Linked DNA regions of Homo sapiens: region 1 is linked to region 2. Evidence: fine-mapped QTL for protein levels in blood plasma. Region 2 holds a variant in brackets. A gene starts in the other region. All regions are shown on their forward strands. Region 1 holds the start of CTRL (chymotrypsin like). Region 2 has its middle 11 kb from the start of CASC17.

What was found. A credible set is the group of variants that fine-mapping cannot tell apart. PIP is the chance, under the fine-mapping model, that this variant and not a neighbour inherited with it causes the effect. Protein levels are from antibody-based Olink assays in UK Biobank. Linkage for the fine-mapping came from a reference panel and not from the study's own genotypes, which makes the PIPs less certain.
Region 1: CTRL starts here. The variant in region 2 is the best candidate, but not a certain one, in a credible set for the plasma level of the CTRL protein (UK Biobank, PIP 0.68).

The regions. Positions count from the first base shown.
Region 1 is chr16:67,930,502-67,935,755 of GRCh38, forward strand. CTRL (chymotrypsin like) reads right to left here and starts at 1,361. Exons shown (of 7, transcript NM_001907.3): 1 at 1,300-1,361; 2 at 597-700; 3 at 419-498; 4 at 225-306; 5 at 1-87. The coding sequence starts at 1,351. It overlaps PSMB10 (proteasome 20S subunit beta 10), which reads right to left. Exons shown (of 8, transcript NM_002801.4): 5 at 5,081-5,196; 6 at 4,919-4,977; 7 at 4,296-4,447; 8 at 4,005-4,170. The coding sequence ends at 4,059. RefSeq lists enhancers at 1-335, 336-852, 4,919-5,118.
Region 2 is chr17:71,207,971-71,218,548 of GRCh38, forward strand. No RefSeq gene overlaps it. Among named protein-coding and RNA genes, the nearest start is that of CASC17, 11 kb to the left of the region's middle. The variant C/T (reference allele first, on the strand shown) is at 5,141.

The DNA of each region.
Region 1 (5,254 bases), not on the chromosome of region 2:
TGTTGTGTACTGGGCTGGCGAGGCGAGCTTCAGCAGCGTCACGTCATTGTTCATGGTGGTAGAGTTCCAGCTAGGGTGTGTAATGGCCTGTGGGGTCAGAAACAGTCCATGTTCTGATGGGTGCTGAGCAGGGTAGGCCAGGGCATGTCCTGAATTCCTCGTTCCCAGCACCCACCCACCTGCACTGCCCACTTTTCCTCCGTGTCTGCAGCCCAGGCACTCACCCGAGAGACGGACAGAACCTGCAAGGGCTCTGCGTTTGATGATCGGTCATACTCGCCCAGGACAACAAAATGGCGGCCAGGGCTGCAAGGGGGTGGGATTAGGCAGCTGCAGGGAGGCCAGCGCGAGAGGGGGACAGCCAGGGGAGGAGGCAGGAAGAGGCGAGGGGCGGGGCAGGTGGAATGCAGGCACTCACCTGACATTGCAGTGGGCAGCAGTGACCACCCAGGACTGGCTGATGAGAGAACCACCGCAGAAGTGGAAGCCGCTGCTGTCCTGTGGTCAGGGCTCAGAGGTCAGAGTGGGGGTGGGCTGCTGAGGCTGCCCCTAGGCATGACGTACCCAGGACCCTGCCCACCCCTCTGGTGGTGTACCTGCAGGGACACCTGCCAGGGCCAGGAGCCCAACACTGCATTCTCCCCGTTGACAATCCTCTGGCTGAAGCTCAGTGCCGGTTTGATGGCAGGAATGCCGCAGCCTGGCCATTGGGCTAATGAGGACCTGCTTCCCATGCCTCAGCCCATCTTTCCCCACCTCCTTTTGGGTGCCCCAGGCTGTGCACCCCAGAGAGGTCTGTCGAGAGGGTACAGCACTACCCCTTCCCCAACAGGGTACATGCAAGCACCTTCGGGCCCCACAGCTATCTTGGTTATCCCTATCCACCCAGTCCCCCAGCCCTGCTGTTCTCCTACATCTGTCTCCAGCCTAGTCCCCGCTGTTCCCCATCTCTACCCCTGGTCTCTCTGCCCCCTCCCGACCTGAACAGTTCATACCCTTCATGCAGCCAGAAGGTTCTTTCTAAAAGACATGGACAGGTCTTCCTGTCTCAGCTTCCTAAACCCTCCCGGGCTCCAGGGCCTGGCTCAATCTCTGGTCCTATTTGTGAGACCACCCCACCTCTTGCCCCCTCCCAGCCCTGCAGGCCTGTTCCCTGCTCCACTGCCCTGGCATATCCTGTTTCTTTTGCCCACTCTGTCCACCTTCGTCCCTTCCAGCCAGCCTAGCTCCTTCCCTGGGCTGTTGCTGGGAGCTGAGTTGCTCCCAGGGCTGAATCAGGGCTGGTCCTGGCCCACTCACCCCAGGAGGAGCCGAGGAGAACCAGGCTTAGGGTCAGGCTGAGCAGCAACATCGTGGCAGATGTGAGGTTGGGAGCTGGGTCTGGCTTTATGGGTCTTCTCGTCCTTGAGCTAAAGCTCCAGGCCTGAGGCCAGGCCAGCTGTGTAGACTCAGCCCCCTCCCACGCTCCAGGCAAGACAGGCCCTTTAGGCCAAGGTCCCCTGACCGAGACCTAGACTTATCAGACAGAGCCCAGGTGTGAGACTCACCTCTGCCACCTCCCAAAGCCTGGCCTCTAATTGGCTCCCAGAACCACCTCCCATTCCAAATGTTGAGCCCTCGGTACTGAGGACAGATGGTTAAATTAGGTCTATAGTGACAACCTGGTGGCTGGGATCACAGGAGTCACCCAGGGCTAACAAAGGCACCAGGCTTTCAGAGAAGGCCGCTCAGCGTCCAGGGTGTTCTGACTGGTGGATGGAATGCTCACTGCGGTCAACTTTGCTGTGAAGGGCCAGGGGCTGTGAGGTTCTGGCAGGCTGGGAGTCCTAACACATCATCGCAGTGGTTCCTCGTCCATTTGGAACAGGAGTCACAGGTCTGCTCAGAGATGGTGACTCTCCCACCAGCACGTGGTTGAGTTGTACACAAACTCGCATTTGTCTGGCGCTGAAGCCTCCGCTCTTAACAATGAGATGATACTTATGAAGGGCCTGGCATTTAGGAGGGCAAAGTGTGAGCTCTTGGTGCCTGGCCGACCGTGGACTGAGGCTGCAGGTGGAGAGTGACAGACATCAAATCTCTGCCACCCTCTTTAGGCCTTGGGGCTCCCATGGGCAAGCCCCTGGTGTCTGTAGCCCATTTGTTACTGAGCTGCAGACCAAGCTTGAAGGGAGAAGACACCCTGTGTGCAAAGTTCCAACAGGTGCATTGGCTGGCGGCCTTCTGGGAGTGTGAGGGCTTTAACTGATTCAAGAACAGATCAGGGCTGGGTGTGGTGGCTCACACCTGTAATCCCAAAACTTTGGGAGGCAGACGTAGGAGGCTTGATTCCAGGAGTTCGAGACCAGCCTGAGCAACATCATGAAACCCTGTCTCTACAAAAAAAATTTTTTTAAATTAAGAAATGAGCTGGGTATGATGGTACACACCTGTAGTCCCAGCAACTCAGAAGGCTGAGGCAGGAGGGATCACTTGAGCCCTTAAGTTCAAGGCTGCAGTGAGCCATGAGTGCACCACTGCATTCCGGCCTGGGCGATGGAGCTAGACCCCATCTCAAAGAAACAGCATCAGCCAAAAAATGAGATGAATTGGCTGGGCACGGTGGCTCACGCCTGTAATCCCAGCACTTTGGGAGGCCGACGCGGGCGGATCATGAGGTCAGGAGATCAAGACCATCCTGGCTAACAGGTTCAGTAGAAACCTCGTCTCTACTAAAAATACAAAAAAAAAAAAAATTAGCCGGGCGTGGTGGCGGGCACCTGTAGTCCCAGCTACTCGGGAGGCTGAGGCAGGAGAATGGCGTGAACCTGGGAGGCGGAGCTTCCAGTGAGCTGAGATTGCGCCACTGCACTCCAGAGCCTGGGTGACAGAGCGAGACTCCGTCTCAAAAAAAAAAAAAAAAAAAAGGAGCGATGAATTAATGGATAGAGGGATGAATAGATGATAAAACAAATATAACAAAATATTTGCACTCCAGAGCCTGGGTGACAGAGCGAGACGCCGTCTCAAAAAAAAAAAAAAAAAAAAAAAAAGGAGCGATGAATTAATGGATAGAGGGATGAATAGATGATAAAACAAATATAACAAAATACTGTCAGGTCTGTGGTGACCTGACAGTATAAGGGTATTCAATATACAACTCTTTCTACTTTTCTGTTACATTTACAAATGTTCATTAATAGAATGTTGGGGTGCAGGGAGCACACTCAGCGGCCTGGGGATGTGCAGCCCGGCATAGACCCTCCCTGGGCCCTGGGTAGACTCTCCCTGACATTTCTGAAGCTCCAGCGGAGTTCAGCCGTTCTCGCTGAGGACAGGATGCTCTTGCTGGCACCCAGCAGCCAGGCCTGAGACTCAGCAGGGGCCCAGCAAAGGTTTGTTGGAGAAACGTGTCATCTCTCCCCATGTGAGTCCTGTGACCCTTATTAGCCTGGAAAACTTGGAGTCACAAGCCCAGCATGTGCAGACAGAAGACGAGCTTCACGTGAGCAGTGCAGGCATGCCTCGTCATCTAAGGGGTGTCACAGGTAAAGATGTTGCGAGGTTGAGGAGTGCTTGGTGAGAACTTGCCTTGGAGTCAGGGAGCGGCTCCTCTTGTCAGCACTTTAGCCCTCAGTGGGGCCTGTGGGGGCCTGATTGAAAGGTATGAGCTTTGTCCTGGGCCACTGAGGAGCCATGGAAAGTCTCTAGGAGGGGGTAGTACATGGGGTATTTCATAATTTACAAGTCTCCAGTGGACTAGAGGGCAAGAGCAAGACAGTGGAGTGGTGGGGGAGCCTTCAAGTGTGGAGTCAGAAGGAAGGTTTGGGTGGAGACCAAGCCTGCAATGCTGGCCAGGGCTGGGGTTCTGGAGTTGTAGGTGCCTGAGGTTATGGGTGAAGGGCATCTCTTAGGCCAGACACTAGAGCTATGGTAGGTAATGGCCCCTGCAGGGACGCCTTAGCTACAGAGCCCTGCTGGCTGCCTGCCCACCCCATTCCACTCAAGAATGACACAGCCATCTGTTTAACTGTATTTTCTGGGTTTATTCCCCCTTGTTCCAAGCTCTAAGCCTCAGCTTACTCCACCTCCATAGCCTGCACAGTTTCCTCCACTAGCTCCAGGGTTAGTGGCTTCACTGTCTGGGTCAGGACAGCTGTGGTTCCAGGCACAAAGTGGTAGCGGCCAGACCTGGGAGGGAGGAGGGACAGCCTCTGAACATGGGCCTGTCATGTGGCCCATCCCCTTTTTGCAGCCCCCTATCTCCCCTGCTATAGCCCCACACATCCCTGTGGTCCCCGATCTCCAGCTCTCACCTCTTCACGGGCTCTGTGGGTGAGCTCAGTGTCCGCAGCAGCTTGGCGCCAGTCTTTGTGATCACACATGCGTCCACATTGCCCCCGGAGCCCAGGTCACCCAAGATCCCGGCGGTGACGGCTTCCACCAGCAGCCCCTGAGCAGCCTCCAGCTGCGGTGATGGGTGTGTGAGACCTAACGGGCTCTCTCTGCTGTTAACTTAGGCTACAGCCTGGGGACTTGCCTGTCCACTTACCCAATCTGGTCTTGCCCTCCAAACCCCCACTGTGTTTCTCCCTCTGAGCCTTAGCCACCTCTGAGGCAACATCACCTGCTTCCATCCCACCCCAAACAAAATCTAGGCTCCAGACGTTGATATAAGTAGGACCCTACTGGTCCTTCTCTCCGCCCTCGGCTCCTAAAGATCCTCTGTGAGCTTCGACTTCTCCCAGCCGTGCAGGCTTTGGTATTGGACGGTGTTATGTCGGGACCGCACTTCTCTGCCCTTACTCCACTCACCCTTCAGTGGTCACCTCCTCCGACAAGCCTTAGCCACCCGCACTGGGCCAGGGTCCTGTGCTCCCCCAGCTCCCGGGTGCACATCCCACCAGCGACCACAAAGTCGGGGACAGAGGCCGCTCACCGTCATGTTCGGCTGGAACCGGTCTTCTAGCACCGCCAGGGCCGCGTCCTGACCAGAGCCTGAAGGCAGGAGAAGCATCTGAAGTCAACCGCTGCGACGCCGTTTGGAGTGAGGCCAAGGTCACAGGGGCAGAGTTCGAGGAGAAGGGACAGAAGCGCTCACCCAGGGCTGTGAAGGGCAGACGGCTGTAGGAGCCATGGGGATGCACACCGTAGAGCTGCGGTCCAGTCAGGTCTACGCCGCCCACGATCAGCGATGCACCCACGTGGCCCTGGTACCTGCTCGAGGATGGGCGGGGTCGGCCACAAGCTGGGGCCTAGGCCCCACCTCTCTATG
Region 2 (10,578 bases):
ACACTTTACATCTACTTTGTTTCTAGATGATTTTAAACATTGCTCATGTCTTAATATAATTTGTTCCAGAGACTTTTCAGGAGTTTAATAAGTGGCTAACTTAAAGTAACATCAGAGGCTGTCTCTATGAAGCTAATGGTTCTATGACATAGTCATCACTGAGTTCCCAGGTTGTCCATACCAAAATAGAGTTTATGATGTGTATGCCCCTGCCCAAACATGCTTTATATGCCAGGGGGTGTTGAAATGATGTCCTGCTGGCACAGGTTCTGTTTACCACATTGCCTTGACTTCATGAGTTGGGGCACATTCTATTTGGGTTGCGCAAGCCAAGATCATCATTGCATAAAGCAGGAACCCACAAATTGCTATTTCTTAGGTGACCCGATAGTGTCTGTTCACAGCAAAGGCTGAATGAGAATTACCCCTGGTTTCTTTGGGACGTGGCAAAGCAAACTTACTCAGAGTTCCTTGGTTGAATCCAAAAAAGAAGTCATCTACTAAGATGAGTCACTGTTGAGCAAAAACCTTGTCTGCTACTCTCTTTAAAGGTTATGTGCTCTTCTAAAATTACATATTTTGATTGATATATTAATGTGGCTATATTGTGGTTGCCTAGAGACAACTTGGAACCCAGTGAGTTGGATGATGATGTTCTTTGTCACTGATTACATCATCTCAGACTTCATGCTCCATTCATACCTTAGAGGGACAGAAATATACTTGCCCTTTTCACTGACGAAAGAAGAGATATTTTTAGATTTTGCCTTCCTCATTTCTATTAGGCAATTTTTTTAAATTTATACTTTAAGTTCTGGGATACATATGCAGAATGTGTAGGTTTGTTACATAGGTATACACGTGCCATGGTGGTTTGCTGCACCCATCAACCCGTCATCTACATTACGTATTTCTCCTAATGCTATCCCTCGTCTACACCCTCACCGCACAACAAGCCCCAGTGTGTGATGTTCCCCTCCCTGTGTCCATGTGTTCTCATTGTTCAACTCCCACTTATCAGTGAGAACATGCAGTGTTTGGTTTTCTGTTCCTGTGTTAGTTTGCTGAGAATGATGGTTTCCAGCTTCATCCATGTTCCTGCAAAGGACATGAACTCATCCTTTTTAATGGCTGCATAGTATTCCATGGTATATATGTGCCACATTTTCTTTATTCATTTGGGATAAGGTCTATCATTGATGGGCATTTGGGGAATGGGAGGGCATTTTATTCATTTGATAAATATCCTGTCATGTAGTTTAATATATTTGTAAATCTTTTGGGTTGAGTATTATCACTTTAAAGAGACTAAAGAGACAGAAATGACAGTAAACGAAGAAAGAAAAACTTTGCAAATTATTTTCTTTTGTCTTATTTATTAACTCAGAGCAAAATGTATAAACACCTATCATTATGGTTGTTAATTATGTTCCCCCAGCTTTATAATTGTGATCATCTGAGATACCATGATAGACATCCTAAGTCTCTTGACAAGATCAATTGAAAAAAAAGATAGGTCATCATTGCATATGCAGTTGCCCAAAGAGCCAAGATCTCAAGAAATTTTGTTTTTCACAAACGCAGATGTACAAAAAGGACATCTCTTCATTTATCTAGCATGTGGCAATGTTTTTACATACGTGCACAATGCTTATACACAAAGTCAGTGTTCTCATACTGTACTTTTATGGAGTCAAATTTGCCAAAAACAGAATAAATGATTTAGAACTCTCAAGAGTCTTTACAAAATATATACCAGTATTGGAAATGGTGTGAAGATGAAATACATAGCATAAAAGTTATACAAAATAATGCTAACAACTTAAAATAGCGGGGATAACAGGAAAAAAAACAAAACAAAAAACCCTAAAACTGGCTAAAAATAAAATCTGACATATGTAAATGCATATCACAGGGATAGATTAGGAACAATTTCATGAAGGTAGTCCCTAAGGGCTGGCCAGCCTTGATAATCATTAACTATGATTAATAAGTCTTGCATTGCAATGAATAGCTGCTTTTTATCTTTGAGGGCATGGCTTTCCTGGGAGAATATATTCACATTCATTTTCTACATGACGCTATTCTTTATGAAATTCTTCTACGATTCAATATATACCAACATGAGCATTCCCTATTAAATTTTCCTGTCTTCTGCGTCATGGTTCTATGTAGTTTGGGGTATACAGGAATCCATTTCCCATGTACTTATATAGAGACCCCAAATTCGGCAGAAACAGTACAAGTAATCAAACAGCAAAAATTGTGTTAAAACCTTTTTATCCTACTGTGGACATAATTATTTTCTAACCAGTCAGTGACTTTGCTGACTTCTTCAGGCAAATGTGGCTTTAATTCAATAAAAGCTCCTGAATTTTTATCAACTGAAAGGGATGTCAGTGTAGACAAGTGACACATTTTTAAGCTGATATTTTTGTCATTGCCATTGTGGCCAATTTACTCATCTGAATTTTCCACCAAATGCAATTTACTCATCTGAATTTTCCACCAAATGCAATAAGAAAGCAACAGTTCTGCCTACTATGATGCCACCAATATGAAGCCAGTATCCTACACACAGTTACAACCTCAAGGAAACCCTTTCTTATAATTTGACTTTCAGGATTTTGATATTTGAGATTTTAACAATTTGAGATTCTGATTCTTGAGATTTTAGATATTAGGGAATTTAGATGTTAGAGATTTTAATCTTTTGGAATTGCAACATTTGGAATTATGGCATTTGGGACTGTGTCTTTCAGAATTATGGTTGGCAGTGGTGCTCTCCTATAGCTACAAGGATCAGAGAAACTCTTCTCTTTGCAGAAGAGTTTTTTAATGATCCTCAAAAGATCAAAACAATTAAACATTTGGAGATAAGAAGGCCACTGGCTGATTATTTGACTTATGAAGACTAATATGTTGTAAAGTGAATCAGAACAGGTACCTGAGAGTGACATAAATATTTAGATGACAAAGAATCTTAACTAATGTGGTGGCACTATAAATATAAAGCCATGCATAAGTGTACGGAGAAATTCAAGGGGGATATCACTGAGATTTGATCTGACTTTTGAGGCTGAGTGTGTGGTAGAAGAGTAGCACTAAGAACAGAAAATGAAATATCAAGAAAATAAATCACTGTGATCTGAAGATAGAAAGGAAATACTGAGCTCAGTTTTAGATGTTTATCCTAGTTAACTGTGATGCCTTTCAGGTGGTGATGGGTCATCCAGGTAAATATGTCTATCAGATATTTGTATCTGTGGTACATAAATTTGGGATAAGTGTCAGGATTTGAGAATTTGAGGAAGTAAAATTTGAAGATGTGAGGCCAGAAGATATTTTTCTAGTCTTGAATTTAACAATATCTATATAATAACACAATTCAATATTTTTTGTTCATGTATCTCTGGATCCAAAGGAATAAAAGAGATTTCCACTTCTGAGATGGAGTGAATGTACTTTTTCCTTTTCCTTCTAAGCTCAATGAAAAATCCTGCACATTATGTATAATGCAAGCATGAGAAGACTCTGAAAGGTAGAGAGAAAAAGGCAGACTGGCTATGAAACTTAGGACCCAAGAAACCAGAAAGAAGTGAGTTCCCTCACTTTTCTTTGTGTCTCATATGTCCCAGACTTGGGGCTGAAGAAGCTAGCAATCCAGAAATGCCAATGAATACAGGCAAAAGGGGCCAAAATAAAAGCCCACTCTCTCTAGCCAAAAGTCCAGGAAAGGGGCAACCTACCCAGAAAACAAAAAAACAAACAACAACAAACAAAAACAAAAACAAAACAAACACACTTTTAGACAATAGATATTATACTCCAGTAAAAACTCACAGAAAATAATATGCCTCTGCCCCTCGTCTCACAAGCAAAGACAGGTGGGAAGCCTAAACTTCAACCTGGATGTAATCACGGAGCCCAGATCTTTTTCTGGGGTGATGTCAAAGAAGGTTGAGTAGGAGACCAAGAGTTTCATCTCCATCAGGCAGTCATAAGTCTTGCCTTCCCCTTGGTGTCAGGGGAGAACACATGGAGAGCCTGGACTTTTACTCTGAAAGAATAGTAATGAAAGGTGCTCCTCCCACTCCCCACTGAGGAGGTCAAAAGAAGGCCTAATAAAGACTCAAGATTTTCATCATTACCTGGCAAAAATTGGTCCATCCTCTACCCTGTGGTATCAGTGGAGGTCATGAATGAAGAAATAGCAAGGCACTCCTGTCCCTCCCAATGAGAGAGGGACAAGATAGGAATTACATCCAGCCTTTCCTCACTAATCATACAAGTAAGGAGAGAGTGGAGTTAGATAAAGTGTTGAGAGAAAGAAGCTACCAACTTAGAATTAGGTACTCTATAGAATTTTTTTTTAAGTGAAGGAGATAGAAAGGCTTTCTGAGATGAACAAAATTGAGAGAATTTGTTGCCAGTAGACCTGCTTTGCAAGAAATTTTACAATAAGTTATTTAGAGAAAGAAGATTATGTAGGATAGAAACAGATCTATACAAAGAAAAGAACACCAAAGAAAAAATAAGCAAATAAAATTGTTTTTTCTTATTCTTAACTGATCTAACAAATATTTTGTTCAAAATAATAATAGCAATAATATATTCAATTACAGATGCTTATGTATCTATGCATATATGTATAGATCTATTTATCTATTCATAAACATATATGTATTTATATGAATGACATCAGTTATACAAGGGACAAGAGGGAGTAATTACAATTTTTTGTTATTATAAGATATTCACACTATACATGAAGCAGTAGTTGTAAATGTATATTGCAAACTTTAGGGCACCCACTAAACAAAGGTAAAAAGAAAAAAAAAAAGAATAACTGACATGCTAAGGAAAGAGTGAAAATGGAGTCATATTAAAATGTTAAGTTCAAACCACGAAATGCAGAAAAAGAGTAAAAGACATAAATGGGAACAAAGAAGAAGGGCGACAATTAGAAAACAGTAACAAATATGGTAGCTGTCAATCCAACTATATTAGCAATCACTTTCAATGTCAATGGTTTAAATATATCAATTATAAGAAGGAGATTTTCAAAGTGGATCAAAAAACAAGATCCAGGACAGATATAATTAAACTTCTGAAAACCAAAGGTGCAGAAAAAAAATCA[C/T]AAGAGCAATAAGAGAGAAATTATATCTTACCCATAGAAGAAAACATGTGAAAGGACAGTGGATTTCTCATCAGAAACCATGGAGGCCAGAAGCAAGTAGCACACCATTTTTCAAGTAAAGTAAAGAGCTATTAACCCAGAGTCTTATGCCCAGAAAAAAACATCCTCTGGGAATGAAGGGGAAATCTACACATTCTCAGATGAAAAAAGATGAAGAGAACTTGTCACCAGCAGACCTGCTCTAAAATAATGGGTCAAGAGAGTTCATTAAGCAAAACAACAACAACAAAATACAAGTAAGAATCTTAGGACATGAGTAAAAAAGAAACAACATAATTAAAAAATGGGTAAATATTATACACTTTCCTTTTCTTTTTATGATATATAAATTATCTGACTGTTGAAGTAAAATTTATAACGTTGTCTCATGTAGTTCTAAATATATAGAGAGGAAATATTTAGGATGATTATAAGCAGAACAGGATAAAACAATTTAAAGGGAGATAGGATTTCTACTCCTCACTTGAACTGGTAAAATCACAACCAGTAAACTGTGATAAGTTACATACATATAATTCAATATCTAGAGGAATCTCTAAAGAGTTTCCACAAAGAAATGTACTCAAACCCCCTACAAATGAATGAAAAATGAATTTTTAAAAATATTCAAGAAAACCACAAGAGGCCAGAAATAAGAAAACTACAAAACAAAAAACAGAGAGACCAAATAGATAAAAAAACATTAAATGACAGAATGAAGCTCTAACATATTAATAATTACTTTAAATGCAAATGATCTAAATATACTGCTGTGGTTTAGTGTGTCATCTAAAGTTCATGTTTGGAAACTTAATCCATAATGTAACAGTGTTGGGAGTTGGATCTTAAAGAGGTGATTAGGTTATGAAGGCTCTACCCTCAGGAATAGATTAATGTGATTATCACAGGAATGGGTAAGTTATCGCAAGATAACTTCTGCTATGGGATGACCCAATATGAAGGCTTTCATCAGATGCTCATGCCATGCTCTTGGACTTTCCAGCCTCCAGAACCATGAACCAAATAAACCTCTATTGTTTCTAAATTACCCAGTCTTGAGTACCCTGTTATAATATCACAAAATGGACTAAGACATAACCAATCAAAAGATGAAAATTGGCAGATTAGATTAATAAAAATGACACAATCATTTACTGTCTACAAAAAAAAATCTAAATCTAAGACTACGGGTAAGTTAATAGTAAAAAAAAGAAAAATATATATTAAGAAAATATTAATGGAAACAAAGGACTGCTATGTTGATATCAGATAAAGAAATAAATCCAAGATAGAAAGGGAACTGTATAATGATAGGAGGTTCAATAAACCAATAAAACATAGCAATCCTAAATGTATATGCATCAGACAACAGAGCTGCAAAATATGTGAATCTAAAACTGAAAAAATTAAAATGGAAAAACAGACCAATTTACACTTTAATTGAAAATATTAACACCCCTCTCAACAACTGATACTCCAACTAAAGAGAAATCAGCAAGGAAATATAAAGACACCATCAAGCAACAGTGTCTAATCAATACTTATTAAAAAAACTCCACCAACAGCTGCAAAATATACGTTATTGCAAACTGAACAATACATTTCTAAGGAATCTAAATGTGAAGAAGGAAATCTCAAAGGAAAAATACACAATGAACTGAATGAAAATGAAAATACAAGTGATCCATGACTTAATAATGGTTCAACTTATCATATTTCAACATTACACTGGTGTGAAAGTGATACACAAACACAAGAATTTTTTTTTTTTTTTAGATAGAGTCTTGCTCTGTCACCCAGGCTGGAGCGCAGTGGTGTAGTCTCAGCTTACTGCAATCTCCACCTCTCAGGTTCAAGCTATTCTCCTGCCTCAACCTCCTGAGTAGCTGGGATTAAAGGCACTCACTACCACGCCTGGCTAATTTTTTTATTTTTAGTAGAGACAGGGTTTCACCATGTTGGCCAGGCTGGTTGCGAACTCCTGACCTCAAGATATCTACCCACCTTGGCCTCCCAAAGTGCTGGGATTACAAGCATGAGCCACCATGTCTGGCCAAACACAAGGTTTTCAACTTCAAGCACCAGTGATTCATTGAGTAAAGATTCTCTCGGCTGCATTTTTGATTTGCAAGATGAAAAGACAAAAGTTACTAATCTGAAAAATGAGTTAGGAGATATCACTACAAACCCTGCAGACATTATAAACATAATGAGAGGAAACTATGAACAATTGTATGCATTTGATGACTTAGATGAAATAGGTTAATGCCTCAAAAAACACAAATTACAATAAACACCAACTATGACAATTCACCAGTATGAAAAAGATAATTCTGATATTTTGCTAGCTCCATAACTCTTAAAGAAAATGGATTTATGATTTTTAAATTCTCAAGAAAAAAAATAAAGAAATCTCCAGGCCCAAATGGTTTTACTTGTCAATTCTACCAAACTTTTAAAAGAAGAATTAATACCAATTATACACAGTCTATTCAGTAAAGAAGAGGAGGAAACCTTTCTCAATTGCTTTAATGAGGTTAGGATTATCTTGACACCAACATAGATGAAGACAACCGTGAAGAAGGAGAGAGAAAGGAAAAGAAAACTAAGCACCAACACCTGTCATGAATATATGCAAAAATCCTTAAAAAAATTAACAAGTAGAAGTCAGCAATATATAAAAGGAATTGTACACCATCACCAAATATGGCATATACCAGGTATGTGAGGCTGGTTCAATATTTGAAAACCAGTCACTGTAATACACCCTATTAACAAACTAAGGATGAAAAATGTACATGATCATAACAATCAATGGAGAAAAAGCATTTGACAAAACTCAATACTAATTCATAACCCTCAGAAAAAAAGGATACAGAAAAATTTTTTCAAATTGATAAGATGTATCTTTAAAAAGACACAAAAAACTTCTTACAGCTAACATTATACTTAATGTTGAAAGGCTAAATGTTTCTCCCTATGGCAAGTTAAGGATATCTTTTCTCATCACCCTATTCAACATAGGCTGGATGGTCTAGCCAGTGAACAAGAAAATAAAAGACTTACAGATCTAGAAAGAAATGTTCTTATTTACAGGTGATACGATTATCCACATGGAAAAACTCAAGGAGTCTACAAAATAAAAATCCTCCTAAGAATAATAAGTTAGTTTATCAAACTTGCAGGATATAAGGTAAACTTGCAGGATATAAGGTAAACATGCACAAATTAATTGTATTTATATGACCTAGCAAAGAACACATGAGGACTTAAAAATACAATTCACCATCAGTAAAAAGTTTTTTTAAAAAAACTTTAAGAGTAAAGCTTTCGAGACATGTGCAAGATTGTATGCTGACAACCACAAAATACTGAAAGCAATCAAAGCTCTAAATAAAGGGAAAGACATAATGGATGTATAGATCGAAAGACTCAGCCATAGTAAAGATAAAAATTCTCCCCAAATTGCTATACAGACATATAAAAATCTCAGTAAGATTTTTTTATAGACATACACAAGACTGTTCTAAAATTTGTCTGAAAATGGATAAAAAATAAGGTATTTAAATTAATTTTTGAAAAAGTCAAGTAAAATGAAAGGAGCAATTTTACCCAATTTCAAGGCATTACGTAACTACAACAATCAAGATTGCATGTTACTGGTGGAAGCCTAGCCTTAGAGATAAATGGAACAGAATAGAGAACATAGAAACAGATTCACACAAATATGCTCAATTGATTTTTAACAAAGGGGCAAAAATAATTCAATGAAAGAATGATAGCATTTCAACAAATAGTAACAGAGCAATTAGAAATCCATAGATGCGGCCGGGCATGGTGGCTCATGCCTATAATCCCAGCACTTTGGGAGGCCAAGGCGGGCAGATCACAAGGTCAGGGGTTCAAGAGCAGCCTGACCAACATGGCGAAACCCCCTCTCTACTAAAAATACAAAAATTAGCCAGGTGTGGTGGCCTGTGCCTGTAATCCCAGCTACTCGGAAGGCTGAGGCAGGAGAATCACTTGAACGTGGGAGGCAGAGGTTACAGAGAGCTGAGATCACACCCCTGCACTCCAGCCTGGGTGACAGAGCGAGACTCCATCTCAAAAAGAAAGAAAGAAAGAAAGAAATCCATAGATGGACACAGAAAAATTAGCCTTAACCTAGTTGACATACCTTATACAAAAATTAACTCAAAATGGGCAATGAATTTAAATATAAAATATAAAGGTATAAAATTTTAAAAATAAAACAGAAGAAAATATATGGATCATACTAGACAAAGCGTTCTCAGAGTTGACATGAAAAGCATGATCCCAAAGAGAAAAAAATGATAAATTGTATTTTATCAAAATCAAAAACTTGGCCAGGCGTGGGGGCTCACGCCTGTAATCCCAGCACTTTGGGAGGCCGAGACGGGTGGATCAAGAGGTCAGGAGATCGAGACCATCCTGGCTAACACGGTGAAACCCCGTCTCTACTAAAAACACACAAAAAATTAGCCGGGTGTGGTGGTGGGCGCCTGTAGTCCCAGCTACTTGGGAGGCTGAGGCAGGAGAATGGCGGCGTGAACCTGGGAGGCGAAGCTTGCAGTGAGCCGAGATCGAGCCACTGCACTCCAACCTGGGTGACAGAGCAACACTCCGTCTCAAAAAAAAAAAAAAAAAAAGAGATACTCTGTAAAAGGTGAAAAGACAAACAATAGACTAGGAGGAAATATTCCTAAACCACGTCAGACAAAGGACTAGAATCTAGAATATATAAAGAACACTTAAAATGCTCAACATCATTAGTCATTAAGGAAATGTAGATTAAAACCACAATGAGACATCATCTCACACCAGTTAGAAAGGCTATTACCAACAAGGCAAAAAATGACAGGTATTGGTGAGGATGTGGAGAAAAGGGAACCCTTGTATACTATTGGTGGGAAGATAAATTAGTGCAGCTATTATGGAAAGCAATATGGTAATTCCTGAAAAAATTAAAAATATGACTATCAGATAATCCAGCAATCTTACTACTGAATATGTATCAAAGTAAATAAAATTAGTATGCCAAAGATATACCTTTACTCCCTTGTTCATTGCAGCATTATTCACAATAGCCACGATATGGACTCAAAATAAGTGTCCATCAATGGACTACTAGATAAAGAAATGGTGGTATATATTCACAATGGAATATTATACAGTGTTTAAAAAAATTCTGTCATTTGTGACATGTTTGAACCTGGAAGATACTATGTTAAGTGAAATAATCCAGGCACAGAAAGACAAATACCTCATGATCCCGCTTATGAGTGGAACAGAAAAATGTTGAACTCATAGAAACAGGGAGTAAAATAGTGGTTGACAGAGGTTGATGGGAGATTGGAGAGACACTGATCAAAGAACAC